Linked DNA regions of Homo sapiens. The protein of the gene in region 1 interacts with the protein of each later gene in a pairwise test. Each region holds a gene or a part of one and is shown on either strand. Other genes may lie near its edges. The genes, in order: FCHO1, KRTAP13-4, ZBTB16 and DNAJC5.

Region 1 (3,868 bases):
ACATCCTTCCACTTCCCAAGGATCATTGCCACCTGCTCTAGAAACTTCCCTAACCCTGCTCAACCCCCTCCCCCACTTCACTGTTGCTCCCTCCAGCTCGCCAGGAATACGTTTTCTCTTTTTTTTTTTTGAGACGGAGTCTCACTCTGTCACCCAGGTTGGAGTGCAGTGATGCGATCTTGGCTCACTGCAAGCTCTGTCTCCTGGGTTCACGCCATTCTCCTGCCTCAGCCTCCTCAATAGCTGGGACTACAGGTGCCCGCCACCATACCCGGCTAATTTTTTGTATTTTTAGTAGAGACGGGGTTTCACTGTGTTAGCCAGGATGGTCTCGATCTCCTGACCTTGTGATCCGCCTGCCTCGGCCTCCCAAATGCTGGGATTACAGGTGTGAGCCACCGCACCCGGCTTTTTTTTTTTTTTTTTTTTGAGACAGGGTCTTGCTCTGTCGCCCAGGCTGGAGTCCAGTGGTATGATCTTGGCTCACTGAAACCTCTGCCTCCCAGGCTCAAGCGATCCTCCCACCTCAGCCTCCCAAGTAGCTGGGACCACAGGTGCGCGCCACCACACCCAGCTAATTTTTTGTATTTTTAGTAGAGACGGGGTCTTGCTATGTTGCCCAGGCTGGTCTCAAAGTCCTGGGCTCAGGCGATCCGCCATCTCAGCTTCTCAAAGTGTTTGGATTACAGACGTGAGCTACCACGCTCCACCTATATTTTCTCTTCTTGTGTTTGGAATTATATTTTCAAAGTTCAAGTGTCCAATCTCCTTATACGTACAGGGTCACTTTGGGTTGGTGACTTCGTCTCTCTGGCCTCAGTTTCCTTCCTTGTGTGACAAATGGGGACAACAACAGCACCCAACTCCCAAGGGTCTTGCTGGGATGAGGCTGGCACAGTGCTGGCCCCAGGAGATCCTCGGGTGAGGCTGCACCAGGCACCACCGCCCAGAGCAGCATCTGGGTCTGACTCAGAGCCAACTGCTGGCCCGTTTCCCAGACCTGGCAAACCCCCAGCAGCGTCTGCCTCTCTTGGACTGGGCTGGCAGCCGAGGGTCCTAGGAGGGGCTGTCTCAGGTCTGTCTCTCCCACCAGAACTTCTAGACTTCAGACTTGGCCTCTGTGCCAGCCAAAATGTGGTCTTTTTTTTTTTTTTTTTTTTTTAGACGGAGTCTCACTCCATCACCCAGGCTGGAGTGCAGTGGCGCGATCTCACTGCGACTTCCACCTCCCGGGTTCAAGCAATTCTCCTGCCTTAGCCTCTCGAGTAGCTGGGACTACAGGCTCATGCTACTATGCCCGGCTAATTTTTGTATTTTTAGTAGAGATGGGGTCTTGCCATGTTGGCCAGGCTGGTCTCCAATTCCTGACCTCAGGTGATCCGCCTCCCTCGGCCTCCCAAAGTGCTGGGATTACAGGCATGAGCCACTGCGCCCAGCCAAGAGTGTGGTCTTTGTAACAGAGCTTGTTTATGTCCCTCTCCTGCTCACACTTCCCCCATGGCTCCCTAGTACACTTCATGCTTCGGCCCTGCCCTGGCGCAATGAGACTGGGGCATCCCTGTTTGGCTTAATCTCCCCAGCACCACCCAGCAAAGAACCAGGCTTCTATGGCGGCTTCAATACTAGCAACTGATGACAGATGTCACAGGAGGCCTCCCTGAGTCTGGGGGTGTGTGGGGTGCATGGGGTGGGAGTGGCGGTGCAGGAATTTCATCCCTTTTTCCCAGATGGGGAAACAGAGGTTCGGGCAGGCAAAGTCATTTGCTCAAGGGCTTCCAGCAGAGTCAATTCGAATCCTGAACTCAAAGCTCTTAACCATTCTCTACCAGGATATCTTTGGGTGAGGTGGGGAAGTCGGGGGTGGTTTCTATTTTCTCTTTGCTGATCTGAATTTTCTGCAGCGAGCCTGCACGCCTCACACAATTAAAAAGGATTTAAAATAAATGTAGGTGCCACTGTCGGGGTTCCAAAATGCAGGTGACTTTTGATCCTCAAATGGTCACCTCCATTACACGGCAGTACTAAAAGGAGCTCAGAAAGGGGTAGCCCCTCACTGGAGTCACACAGCCTTTCAGGGGCAAATCGGGGAGTCTGACCTTTGGAGAGAGGGCGGAGGTCACACCCCTGCAGGTGGCAAGGGAGTGCGGCCCCTTTAAGAAAGCAAGTGCTTTCAAGAGGAGCCCCAGCTGGGGAGGGAGCAAGGGCAGGAGTGGGGCTTGTTGCCAGGGGCAACCAGTCGCCTAGCAACAGGCTTCCTCACTGCAAGCTCAGGGCCTGCAACTGGGGAAGGGGCTTTCTGACCTGGTCCTTCCCTGACTCCTGGGCCCTCCCCTGTTCACCCATCCTCTGTGGCACCCTGTTAGCCTGGCTCTGCAGGAGGAGTCCCTGTTCCCTGAACTTGCCACTCAATGTCACATCTCTGGTCTTTTGCCCAGGCTTTCTCACAGCAAACACGATTCTGTGTCCTGGTTCCTACTCTAGGACCCCCAAGGCTGGGTTCAGCCCTGGTCCTGCAGGGCTGAAGGTGTCTAAGCTGGCTCTGGGTCCCCCAGACTGGGGACTCCTCCCTTGGGGCTGGGGCTGGGATGGATTCTCTTGGAGACCCCAGCATCTCCTAGGGCTGGCTGGGGATGAGGTCACAGTGGCAGGGAGAGAGGAAATGAATGAATAAAAACAACTCTGTCTCACTCAGCAGCCCTTGGGCTACAGGAGGTGATCTCCAGCCTGGACAGTGGAGGGGTGCACAGGCCATGAGACGCCAGGTCAGGAAAACCCCCCAATTCTCCAGGATGGGAAGGGGGTGGAAGTTCCCTGGCTGGAATGACCCTGGGTCCTGGAAGTTCAGTTTGGCCCTGGGTTTGAGCACTGACTCTGCACTTTTTCATGGGGCAACTTCAGGTTGCCTAGACGTTCCCACTCTGGCCCTTGGTCTCCCTATGACACAAGCTATGACTTGCCCAAGGTTGTAAGGCCTGTGAGGTCTGGGGTGGGTGTGGATTCAAACCCAGCCTGACTCTTCCCACTTTAACTTCCATCCCTTGCAGATCCTCTACCTGTCCAAGGCTGTAACCGCAACTCACCCAGTCCTCCCATCTCCATAAAAGTCCCCACAGCCCTGCCAGCATCCCCCGCCTAAATAAGAGTGGGTCTTACCCAAAAATGCTCCCCAAAATACGACATCCTGATGGTCTCTGTGGAGACCCCTGCAGGCCCCGTCCAGTGCCTGTCTGAAGAGAGAGGCAAGTTTGAGCTACAGAGTCATTGCCAGTGTGGGCTTGGTGGGGGGAAAGTCCCTCCCTGTAGAGGAAGGAGAGAAAGGATGAAGGAGGAACTGAAAGCTCCAATGCTAAGAGCATGCCAGGACCCCTGAGATAATTCAGCCCCAGTGCTGGTCCCAAGTAGCTCCAGTAGAGGGGGACAGAACAAGACACAGATGCCCCCAATTCCACAGAGTCAGAACTGGACTAGGTGGAGGGACAAGAGCTGAGGGAGTCTAGATTGGAGGAGGGGGCATGGAATGTGGGGTTTTTAGGCATGTATAAGAGTTCATAGCAGTGGGTAGGAGCAGTGCTGGATGACCCCTAACCTTGACAGGAAAGCTCTGATCCACTTCACAGATGGGAAAACTGAGCCCTCCCCTCCCCCAGAGGGGAAGTCACTTGCCAAGATCACACAGCTAGGAAGGGACAGTAGATTTGCACTCTGGACTGGCTGAGCCCAGACCTGAGCTCTCAGCTCCACTCCAGGCAGCTCCTGCAGGAAAAGGGTTTGAAGAGAAATAGATGCAGGGGCTGTGATCAGCCACATGGGGGTTGGGGTCCCTGAAGTATCCCTGAGGGTCCCCTGGGATCTTCTGATTCCTCTAGGA
Region 2 (3,028 bases), on another chromosome or scaffold:
ATCAACTGCCATTGAAAAATAGAAAGTAACTCACTGAATAGATATTTGAATTGGCCATATTTGCTTCTTTCTTCATTCTTCCTTCTGGAAGGCCTATATTAAGTTACTTTTCAATATTGCCATACATTTTAATTGAGAAAATTTAATCGAGAAAATGTCTAACATTATTGTTGTAAGTTTATTATATTTTATTATAAAATAAAATGTCATCAACCATGACAGTACACTTTCTTTGGTCCTGAATATAATTTAACTACTTGTATTTCAACATAGAATATTTTGTGAATGAACTTACAAAGTGGCTATCCTCAAAGAATACGACAAAGCTGTCCAATTTTTATTTTTCAACATGGAATCTATAATTCAGCAGAGGCAAACAAACACATGAACAAAACATAAAATATAACAAGTAAAAAAAAGAAAAAAGATAAAATCAAACTTAAGCACAGAAAAAAGAAAGAAAAATAGAGGGAAAGAAAGTCAGAGGAAGAGAGAGAGAAAATAAGAGAGAAACATTCATATACCATGCAGAGGAAAAGAGGACTGGGGAACAAAGAAACTTCACATTTTCACAGGAAAATGTAGGATGGTACCTGGTTCTACAAGTGGCAAAAAGACACTGAAAGCCAGTAATATGGAAAGCTAGAGCCATTCTAAGAAGGTAGAAGTCCTGTATAATTACAAAAGTAGATGATAAATATATCAAAGTTCATAAGATTTGCTAATTTTGAAAATTTTTGCTCATAAAGACATTGAGACAAGACACATGACAGCTGGAATGCAATAGGAAAAAAAATTCTGAAATTCCTGAGCTTTCTCTTTGTTTCTCTTTCACTTGTTTCCTCCCTTCAGCAGACAAGCATTCGGGCTCTTTGGCTGAAGAGACATGACCTCAAATTGATCTTCTCTGTGACTGTGTTTCAATCGAGCTTCTTTTTGTTATCTCGTCTTTAAATAAATGGCAAGGTTTCTTTCAATTTCTAGCCATTTCTTTCTATCTCTTTGCTTTGCCTGTTCTTGATCTTTCTTCACTGGATATGAGACAGACTTTATAACTGTAGTACTTAATGTATTAATTTACTCTTACCGCCCTAAAAAATCACCACAAAGTAATTTTGGAGTATAGCAATCAATGGTGACAAGATGGATCATTTTCACAAAGGTTCTCATCCAGGTGGAAATTGCACCAGAAAGAAACTAACGTTATCTCATTCCCCACTCTTAAGAGGAAAACATCTACTAGCAAAGCCAGATGTGAATACACAGGAAAAGAGGCAGTTAGCATGTGCCAAAGAAATAGGAAGAGCTTTCCTTGTCATGATGAGCTAGACATTAATATAAAACAGTCATAGCATTTCTGACATAAGTACAGTTCATTGGCTTTGTGCTATAACACGAAAATTATAGCACCCATAAATACAATACATGGAAAACTATTCAAATGCAATTACAGACAAGATTACGCAGTTACACATATGTAAATGAGGGATCACAAATATGTAAAGGATGACCCTGTTGGGCACCACACCTATTGCTGAGAGGATATAAATGCCCTTGTCCAGGATGCGACATTAAAACTCAGAATCTTCTTAGGTACACTCAGCTGAACTCCCATCTCTCATCAGCATGTCCTACAACTGCTGCTCTAGAAACTTCTCCTCCCGCTCCTTTGGGGGCTACCTGTACTACCCAGGCTCCTACCCCAGCAGCCTGGTCTACAGCACTGCCCTCTGCTCTCCCAGCACCTGCCAGCTGCGTTCCTCTCTCTACAGGGACTGTCAGAAGACCTGCTGGGAGCCCGCCAGCTGCCAGAAATCCTGCTACCGCCCCAGGACCTCCATCCTCTGCTGTCCCTGTCAGACGACTTGCTCTGGATCTCTAGGCTTTCGGTCCAGCAGCTGTCGCTCCCAGGGCTATGGATCTAGGTGCTGCTACTCGCTGGGAAATGGATCCAGTGGCTTCAGATTCCTGAAATATGGAGGCTGTGGTTTTCCTTCCCTGAGTTACGGATCCAGATTCTGCTACCCAAACTACTTGGCTTCTGGAGCCTGGCAGTCTTCTTGTTACAGACCAATCTGTGGATCTCGCTTCTATCAATTCACCTGCTAAATTTCTAGATCCTTTTGAGTATTGGGATCAAAGTCTCTACTGAATGCAGCCATTATTTTCATTCTTGCCAGATCCCAATATCTTTTTATTCTTCCACCACCAGCTTCTTGCATGACCAACTTCTGGCAGACTGCGAAATTAATGAGTAACCTAATATTAACTTCTAATATCTTTACCATTGATCGAATATATGCTATCTGATTTTCATCCAAAAACTGTTGAAAATGGAAATTTTAATCTAATAAATGTATGTAATCTGGTACCCAAATATATTGTTCACATTGTTATTATTTTATTATTATTATTTTGCTTACATTTTTGCATTCAAGAATTTGGGAGATTTAAGTAAAAATCAATATGACTGTGTAACTGGATTTGGGGCCCATATAATCTGACAGATCTGAGAACATTTCTCTTGAAATTAGGTATGTTGTCTATTAAGAGTAATCATTTCTGGAAGAACATAGTTTGCATCTGCAGACTTGTCTCAACAGCAGTGAGAATTGTCTAAGAATGAAGGACATGCATTTCTACTGATATAGGAAAGCAGAAAATTTGATGCATAAACTAGAAATGCAGACAACAAGACTAGGATGTAATTTATAAGGTAAACTGTATGCTTGCACTAAAGGTTACTTAAAGTCTAGTATCTGAATGTGGATTTTCAACCAAGAGAAAAGTGAAGCTTAAGCACTGCTAGGACAGACGCTTTGCTCTTTGTTAGTAGACTTAAGTGCCAGGTTTCCTGCCTCCCACTGGTAAGGAGAGTCAGGATCATTCACCAATGATCTTAAGTGGGAATTATTGGGTCCAGGAGGCTTCGGTAACCTACCGATGCTTCTTCAAGGCTCAACCTTAATCAAGCTGACAGCAACACACCTGAGCCATGCTGAACAAGCATTTATATCCATTAGTCTTA
Region 3 (3,868 bases), on another chromosome or scaffold:
TACCCTTTTCCAAACAGAATTTAGTTTGACATCAGAGGTTCTGGACGGGATGATGAAAGAAAACCAAGAGTCTCAGGAAACCTCAAAAATCCCAAAAGTAGCCTAAACCAAGGTCAACACCTGTTGGCCTTCTACATGATCAACCACTAAAAACAGAGCAGCTGACCATCTGAGAGAGACCAAGGCCAAGGGCCAGGCAGAACTCTGATATCTTAGCCACAAAGCTCATGCACCGTACAGCTGGCTCCACAAAGCCTCTGGGAAGGGCTGTACACACGGATCCAGAAAGCTGGCTCAGACATTCCCTGTGGTTCCTGAGAATCCCTTCAAGAACCAGGCAATAGGCCGGGCGTGGTGGCTCACACCTGTAATCCCAGCACTTTGGGAGGCCGAGGCAGGTGGATCACGAGTTCAGGAGATCGAGACCATACTGGCTAACACGGTGAAACCCTGTCTCTACTAAAAATACAAAAAATTAGCCGGGCGTGGTGGCGGGTGCCTGTAGTCCCAACTACTTGGGAGGCTGAGGCAGGAGAATAGCGTGAACCTGGGAGGCAGAGCTTGCAGTGAGCTGAGATCGCGCCACTGCACTCCAGCCTGGGAGACAGAGCGAGACTCCATCTCCAAAAACAAAAAGGAACCAGGCAAGAGTTGCGACGGTGTCTGTGCAGGACATCCACTGCAGCTGACCTAAGTGCTTGTCTGTATAAGATCCAGAAACCAGACCCCATTGTGCCTCTGCAGCACTAAATTCAGAAACACATAAAGACCAAGCTGCGTGAGCCATGGGAGACTAGGGACTATAAATGAGGACTATGTTCACACTTAAGTCTATAGAACTATACTGTTCCCTGCAATCTTATCGCATATGTACGTAACTCTGAGAATGATCAGGTGCTCCTGGCCTGGATGAGCTGGTTCCTAGACCATTTCCAGAGAAGCCTACATGCAGAACTGCTCCAGCCTTTTGGAATAAGAAAGGGAGGGCCCAGTGTTCCAGAATCCTGAGATGATCTTCCCCTCCCTCAGGCATTATCCTCTGTAATGTGGATGCACTGGTGAAGATTTGGGGGCCCAAAGCTTGCTCCTTCATCTGCCTGCAGAATACTGCTTATCTATCAGATCTTCCCACTGTTCTGACTTCCTTCTGGTTTGTTTAGGTAAGTCAGTCCCATTGGATGCCTTTGTCTGGTCTTCCCACCCATCCATGACTACACTTGACACTGCATCCCTTTTACAGCACGTCATTCCTGCAGTGGACGGCTTGTACATCTTGCTGTCCGCTGCAGGAAACAGGCTCTACAACTCCACTAAGTTTGATTCTCACTATCTGTTGAGCCAACAGCTTACCCTTCACTCCACACCAGCTTGGGATCAAATCATGGGGAAACTTACCGATGACATTCCATAATAAACTCCCTGCCTTCCTGCCTCACTTACCAGCAATCCGCCTTCATTTCCTCTCCATTCCCTTCTGCCCCCCCACCCCAAGAAGAAATGCAAGAAGGACTGCTGGGTATCTAGTCTTTACCAACACTCAGGCCTATTGACTTAAAAATAAAATAAAATAAACCCTGTAGCCTGTTATTTTATCACTGATATATTTCCAGTGAATGCCATGGCTTCCTGGCCTCAAAATCTCCCCTTCTGATTTTTTTTTTTTTTTTGTCTTGGCTTTTTGTTTGTACTGGTTATAGGGCTGTTGTTTTTTTTTTTCCACCATAGCATTTCTCAGACTGCTGATGGGTTGGGGGGAGACAGAGAACAGTAGAAAAAAGGGAATAGCACATTAATCCTGGAGTTTTGAGGGTGAGGGGGAGAAAAAAAGCCTTCTACAAAGTACATCTAGCTGGGACCCGAGGGGCTGTTGATCTGAGTGAGGGCTGAGCACACGCAGGATTATTTTCTCCCCTTTCTGATTTCTTTAGACCCCCAAGCTTCCCATCAAAGGCACTGCCCCTGGCTCTAACTTCTTGGGCTGCAGCTGCTGACTTTCCACCCTCAGTCAAAAGCACATTCTCGGCCCAGCAGGGTGGCACACACCTATAATCCCAGCACTATGGGAGGCCGAGACAGGTGGATCACTTAAGGCCAGGAGTTCCAGGCCAGCCTGACCAACATGGTGAAACCCCATCTCTACTAAAAATACAAAAATTAGTCGGGCATGGTGGTACACATCTGTAGTCCCAGCTGCTCAGGAGGCTGAGGCAGGAGAATCACTTGAACCCGGGAAGTAGAGGTTGCAGTGAGCCAAGATCATGCCACTGCACTGCAGCCTGGGCGACAGAGTAAGACTCTGCCTCAACAACAACAACAACAACAAAAGCACATTCTTCCTGTCAGCAGCCCACATGTGACACGGAGGATTCCAGGGCCAGTGTCTTGCTGTCATATGCTCACAAGGACAGGGACATTCTCTGCACCACCTCACAGTCAACACAACCCTCATGGAGGGTGGCACTGTGGACACTACACACTAGAACTCAGAGCCAATGAGGACCATGCAGAGATGAGGCCTAAACAACACAAGGGACAGATGGTCAGTTCTCCACCGCTGCGGTGACTATGTGCCCATCACAGCTCTAGTGATTTCTGGATCTTACTTCATTAATTCAGCACCAACCCTGTTGACCGTCTCCATTTTAAGAAGTGAGTGAAGGCCGGGCGGGGTGGCTCACAGCTGTAATCCCAGCACTTTGGGAGGCCGAGGTGGATGGATCGCAAGGTCAAGAGATCGAGACCATTCTGGCCAACATGGTGAAACCCTGTCTCTACTAAAAATACAAAAAATTAGCTGGGCGGGGTGACAGGTGCCTGTAGTCCCAGCTACTCAGGAGGCTGAGGCAGGAGAATCGCTTGAACCCGGGAGGTGGAGACTGCAGTGAGCTGAGATCACGCCATTGCACTCCAGCCCGGTGACAGAGCGAGACTCCGTCTCAAAAAAAAAAAAAAAAAAAAATGTAGTGAGTGAAACAAGGCCCAGAAAGGTTAAATAAGTATCACAGGCTCTCACCACTAAATATGGCCAATTCCAATACCCAGGCTCTTTCGAATATAACATGGCCAACTCTCCCTCTCTCCCCAGAGGAATGAGGGTCTTGCTGAAGGGGAACTTGGAAGTCTCAGGAGAGTGGTATCTTTTGTGGCCCTCTCGGGTAAAGAAAAGCAACCAGGAACCAGGACCTGATGAGAGCCAGAAAAACAATTACTTCCCACCATACCCAGTTCTCATAGCACACAGCCGAAATAATTCACATCCGGAAAGATGATACATCTATCTGGTCAACTTTGGGGAGCGGGTTTCCTCTTTAGGAAAGTTTGAGCAAAAACAAACACAACCTCAGTCTATTTCTGAGCGGTACAAGCATCAAGAAGACACACCTTAGTGGCGGTTATTTTTCGCACCCACTGGAAAAAGTCGGCTACGTTTAGCTCTGCCACACTTTCCACAAGTTAAGCCTCTGAGCTGTCGAGGAGGCAGGGTCAGAGCAGATTCCGGCTAGGGGTGATGAGATCAACTTCCAGATATCCCCACCCCAACCCCTCTCACTCACATCCCCCGTACCTGAACGAGCAACAGGGGAATGGGGGTGAAGGGGGAGGAAGTGGAGAATCCACCCAAGATCAGCAAAACAGCAGACCACAGGGTATGCAGCCAAATGCTGTCGTCAATGACAACAGAAAGCTGGATTTCTTGACTCCATTCATCTGACCCAGAAACTAGAGGATAAAATGATGGGCACGTGGTTTATGACAGAAGCAAGGAAAAAAAAAACAAACTCGCTACTTATCCCCCCTGTTATTTACTCCACTTCCTATAAGCAATCTTCAAAACGCTCTGTTCCATAGACATGATCCTCTTCAAGTC
Region 4 (3,868 bases), on another chromosome or scaffold:
AGTAAAAATACAAAAATTAGCCGGGCATGGTGGTGCACACCTGCAGTTCCAGCTACTCAGGAGGCTGAGGCAGGAGAGTCACTTGAACCCGGGAAGCAGAGGTTGCAGTGAGCCGAGATCGTGCCATGGCACTCCAGCCTGGGCGACAAGAGCGAGACCCCATCACATACACAAAAGACAGGAAAAAAAAAAAAAAGCCAGGCACGGTGGCTCACCCTATAATCCTGACACTTTGGGAGGCCGAGGCAGGCGGATCACCTGATGTCAGGAGTTCGAGACCAGCCTGGCCAACATGGTGAAACCCCCGTCTAGACTAAAAATACAAAAATTAGCCGGGCGTGGTGGCGGGCACCTGTAATCCCAGCTACTCTGGAGGCTGAGGCAGGAGAATCGCTTGAACCCGAGAGGCAGAGGTTGCAGTGAGCCGAGATCGCGCCGTTGCACTCCAGCCTGGGGTACAACAGCGAGACTTTGTCTCAAGAAAAACAAAAACAAACAAAAAAACCCCCACAGTTTATTAATCTGCCTTATTGTCCTTTGCCTTTTAAAAATATAAGATAAGCCTGTTTAAGGCTTTACTGGGAGGCAGCTGTCAGTCAGCCAGCTGTTCTGGAGTCAGTCCAGGGCAAAGGCTGCTGTAGGAACAGCATTAGCACAACTTTGCCTATTTATCCTTAACCAGAGCAGGTTTACAAGGATGCCTATACCATGAACACCTGCACGCATCTCAGTCCGCCCACCTGGAGGTCAGACACACTAAGAGGCAGCTGGACCAGCTCCCTGTTCAAGGCCACTTCAGATTCTATGTGAGTTACAGTGCCCTTGTCTTAAAGTATTTTCATAAATGTGAATTAAGCAGTGCTCACACCAGGGAGAAGGATGCTGTGAGTCTGTCTGTTGGTCTGCTGGTGACAATCAGTTAGGGTTACCCAACCTGGCGGGATGATGCAAGAGAAAACAGCACCAACAGAAACCACATCGTAAGAGGTAATTTTGGGGAAAAAAGGGTAATTTTGTAAATCCTGTGTTGTCACTTTAACATGTATGATGACATTATTTGTGCTTATTCTTCAATATTATACCTTTATACTCGAGAATCTAAAAAACTGTTTAAGACCCACCCTGCATGGCTGTCCTGGGGATTACGGCTAATGCATATTCGGCAACCTTGTCCCAGAACACCTGTTCAACAAACCACGGTTTGCCTCATTTCAGAGTGTTTTGCTATTTGGACACGGGGTATTCTTTTTCATCCCCCACTGCAACCTCCGCTTCCCAGGCTCCAGGGATCCTCCCACCTCAGCCTGACCTCAGCCTCTCGAGTAGCTGGGACCACAGGCATGCACCACCACGCCCAGCTAACTTTTGTATTTTCTGCAGAGATGGGGTTTCCTCATGTTACCCAGGCTGGTCTCAAATTCCTGAACTCGAGAGATCTATCCACCTCAGCCTCCCAAAGTGTTGGGGTTACAGGTGTCAGCCACTGCACCTGCCCAAATTTTTGTATTTTTAGTAGAGACGTGGTTTCGCCATGTTGGCCAGGCTAGTCTCAAACTCCTGGCCTCATGTAATCTGCTTGCCTTGGCCTCCCAAAGCACTGGGATTACAGGCTTAAACCACTAAGCCTGGCCAAAAATGTTTTTAATTTTTTAAAAATTTCTATACGAAGAGCCTTATTAAAAGTTTGAGATGGGCCGAGCGCAGTGGCTCACACCTGTAATCCCAGCACTTTGGGAGGCCAAGGTGCGCAGACCATGAGGTCAAGAGATCGAGATCATCCTGGCCAACATGGTGAAACCCCGTCTCTACTAAAAAATACAAAAATCAGCCGGGCGTAGTGGCGCATGCCTGTAGTCCCAGCTGCTACAGAGGCTGAGGCAGGAGAATCGCTTGAACCCAGGAGGCGGAGGTTGCAGTGTGCCAAGATCGCACCACTGCTCTCCAGTCTGGTGACAGAGACTCCATCTCAAAAAAGAGAGTTTGAGGTGAGTCAGTGAGGTGGTGCGTGCCTACAATCTCAGTTACTGAGGGTTAGGGTGATTCTAATCTACTGAGACTGTAGGCATGCACCACCTTGGGAGGCTGAGGCAGGAGGATCGAGCCCAGGAAGGCCAACCTGGGCAACATGTGGAGGCCCCATCTCTACAAAAATTAAAACATTAGTCAACTGTGGTGACACATACCTAAAGTCCCAGCTACTTGGGAGGCTGAGATAGGAGGATTGCTTGGGCCTGGGAGAATGCAGTGAGCTAAGACTGTGTCACTCCTCTCTAACTTGGGTGAGAGACAGAGTGACACCCTGTTGTAAAAAAAACAGGATGTGGCAGGGCGCGGTGGCTCACGCCTCTAATCCCAGCACTTTGGGAGGCCGAGGTGGGCAGATCACGAGGTCAGGAGATCGAGACCATCCTGGCTAACACGATGAAATCCCGTCTCTACTAAAAATACAAAAAACATTAGCTGGGCGTGGCGGCGGGTGCCTGTAGTCCCAGCTACTCGGGAGGCTGAGGCAGGAGAATGGCATGAACCCAGGTGGCAGAGCTTGCAGTGAGCCGAGACTGAGTCACTGCACTCCAGCCTGGGCGACAGAGCAAGACTCTGTCTCAAAAAAAAAAAAAAAAAACAAGATGAGGCCAGGTGCGTTGGCTCACGCCTGTAATCCCAGCACTTTGGGAGGCCGAGGTGAGTGGATCACCTGAGGTTGGGAGGTCGAGACCAGCCTGACCAACATGGAGAAACCCCATCTCTACTAAAAATACAAAATTAGCTGGGTGTGGTGGCACACGCCTGTAATCCCAGCTACTCAGGAGGCTGAGGCTGGAGAATCACTTGAACCCAGAAGGCAGAGGTTGCGGTGAGCCAAGATCACACCGTTGCACTCCACCAGCCTGGGAAACAAGAGTGAAACTCCGTCTCAAAAAAAAAAAAAAAAAAAAAAAAGATGAGGCCAGGAGCAGTGGCTCACGCCTGTAATCCCAGCACTTTCGGAGGCCGAGCTGGGCGGATCACAAGGTCAGGAGATCGAGACCATCCTGGCTAACACGGTGAAACCCCATCTCTACTAAAAATACGAAAAATTAGCCGGGCGTGGTGGCGGGCGCCTGTAGTCCCAGCTACTCGGGAGGCTGAGGCAGGGGAATGGCGTGAACCCGGGAGGCGGAGCTTGCAGTGAGCCGAGATCGCGTCACTGCACTCCAGCCTGGGCGACAGCACAAGACTCTGTCCCCCACCCAAAAAAAAAAAGCATTATTATTTTAAAGAACACATCAAGAAAGAACTAACAAAATTTATTGCGACTGGCAAAAATGTAAAATCTCAGATTTTAACAGCTAGTCCTATCGCAGCAGCTAAAAGAACACCAAAGTGCTGTGGTAAAAGGCCCCGCAAGCAAAGGGGAAAGACAGACACCATCTGAGGGCTACGAACTTGGCAAGAGATGACAGAAGCTACAGTCTGTACTCCTGGACCCAGAATTTCCTTCGTTATTTGTCTTAGGGAAACCTTCTTACAATAAAACACAATCCTATTTAATAAAGAAAAATCCGATGGGACTGCTCAGCAAAGATCCAAACATTCGCTCTGCTGCTAATCCCTCCCAATAACAGGAGGAGCAAAATAAAAGCCAGGCAGGGCCGCACACTCCACACACTCCCTCTGCTGAGCTGCAGTCACTCCTCCCGTCAGGCACCTGCAGCCTCGTCCGGGGTAGAGGCCTCTGGCCTGGGCTCGCCTCCACTCTGAGACTGATGTGGAGCGCGCGGACGCAGCCTCTGGCACCTGAATTCAGCTCCTGCTTCTTCAAGGGTCAAGAGTAAGACGGGATATTTTCGTTCTGCAGTTTCACTAGAACACATTTCCACCCTACCTG

Evidence for each region.
Region 2: the proteins of FCHO1 (region 1) and KRTAP13-4 interact in a two-hybrid assay, tested with the Homo sapiens proteins (one large-scale study listed by BioGRID).
Region 3: the proteins of FCHO1 (region 1) and ZBTB16 interact in a two-hybrid assay, tested with the Homo sapiens proteins (one large-scale study listed by BioGRID and IntAct).
Region 4: the proteins of FCHO1 (region 1) and DNAJC5 come close enough for resonance energy transfer, tested with the Homo sapiens proteins (one study listed by BioGRID).

What each region holds. Positions count from the first base shown.
Region 1 is NC_000019.10:17,754,477-17,758,344, reverse strand, and holds part of FCHO1 (F-BAR domain only protein 1), read right to left. Parts: intron 3,754-3,868; 5' UTR 3,664-3,753; exon of another isoform or gene 3,587-3,663; intron 3,228-3,586; 5' UTR 3,181-3,227; coding exon 3,154-3,180; intron 1-3,153. UniProt on the Homo sapiens protein: Functions in an early step of clathrin-mediated endocytosis. Has both a membrane binding/bending activity and the ability to recruit proteins essential to the formation of functional clathrin-coated pits.
Region 2 is NC_000021.9:30,428,650-30,431,677, forward strand, and holds KRTAP13-4 (keratin-associated protein 13-4), read left to right. Parts: upstream 1-1,570; 5' UTR 1,571-1,626; coding exon 1,627-2,109; 3' UTR 2,110-2,377; downstream 2,378-3,028. UniProt on the Homo sapiens protein: In the hair cortex, hair keratin intermediate filaments are embedded in an interfilamentous matrix, consisting of hair keratin-associated proteins (KRTAP), which are essential for the formation of a rigid and resistant hair shaft through their extensive disulfide bond cross-linking with abundant cysteine residues of hair keratins.
Region 3 is NC_000011.10:114,065,860-114,069,727, reverse strand, and holds part of ZBTB16 (zinc finger and BTB domain-containing protein 16), read right to left. Parts: intron 1-3,868. UniProt on the Homo sapiens protein: Acts as a transcriptional repressor. Transcriptional repression may be mediated through recruitment of histone deacetylases to target promoters. May play a role in myeloid maturation and in the development and/or maintenance of other differentiated tissues.
Region 4 is NC_000020.11:63,901,431-63,905,298, reverse strand, and holds part of DNAJC5 (dnaJ homolog subfamily C member 5), read right to left. Parts: intron 1-3,868. UniProt on the Homo sapiens protein: Acts as a general chaperone in regulated exocytosis. Acts as a co-chaperone for the SNARE protein SNAP-25. Involved in the calcium-mediated control of a late stage of exocytosis. May have an important role in presynaptic function.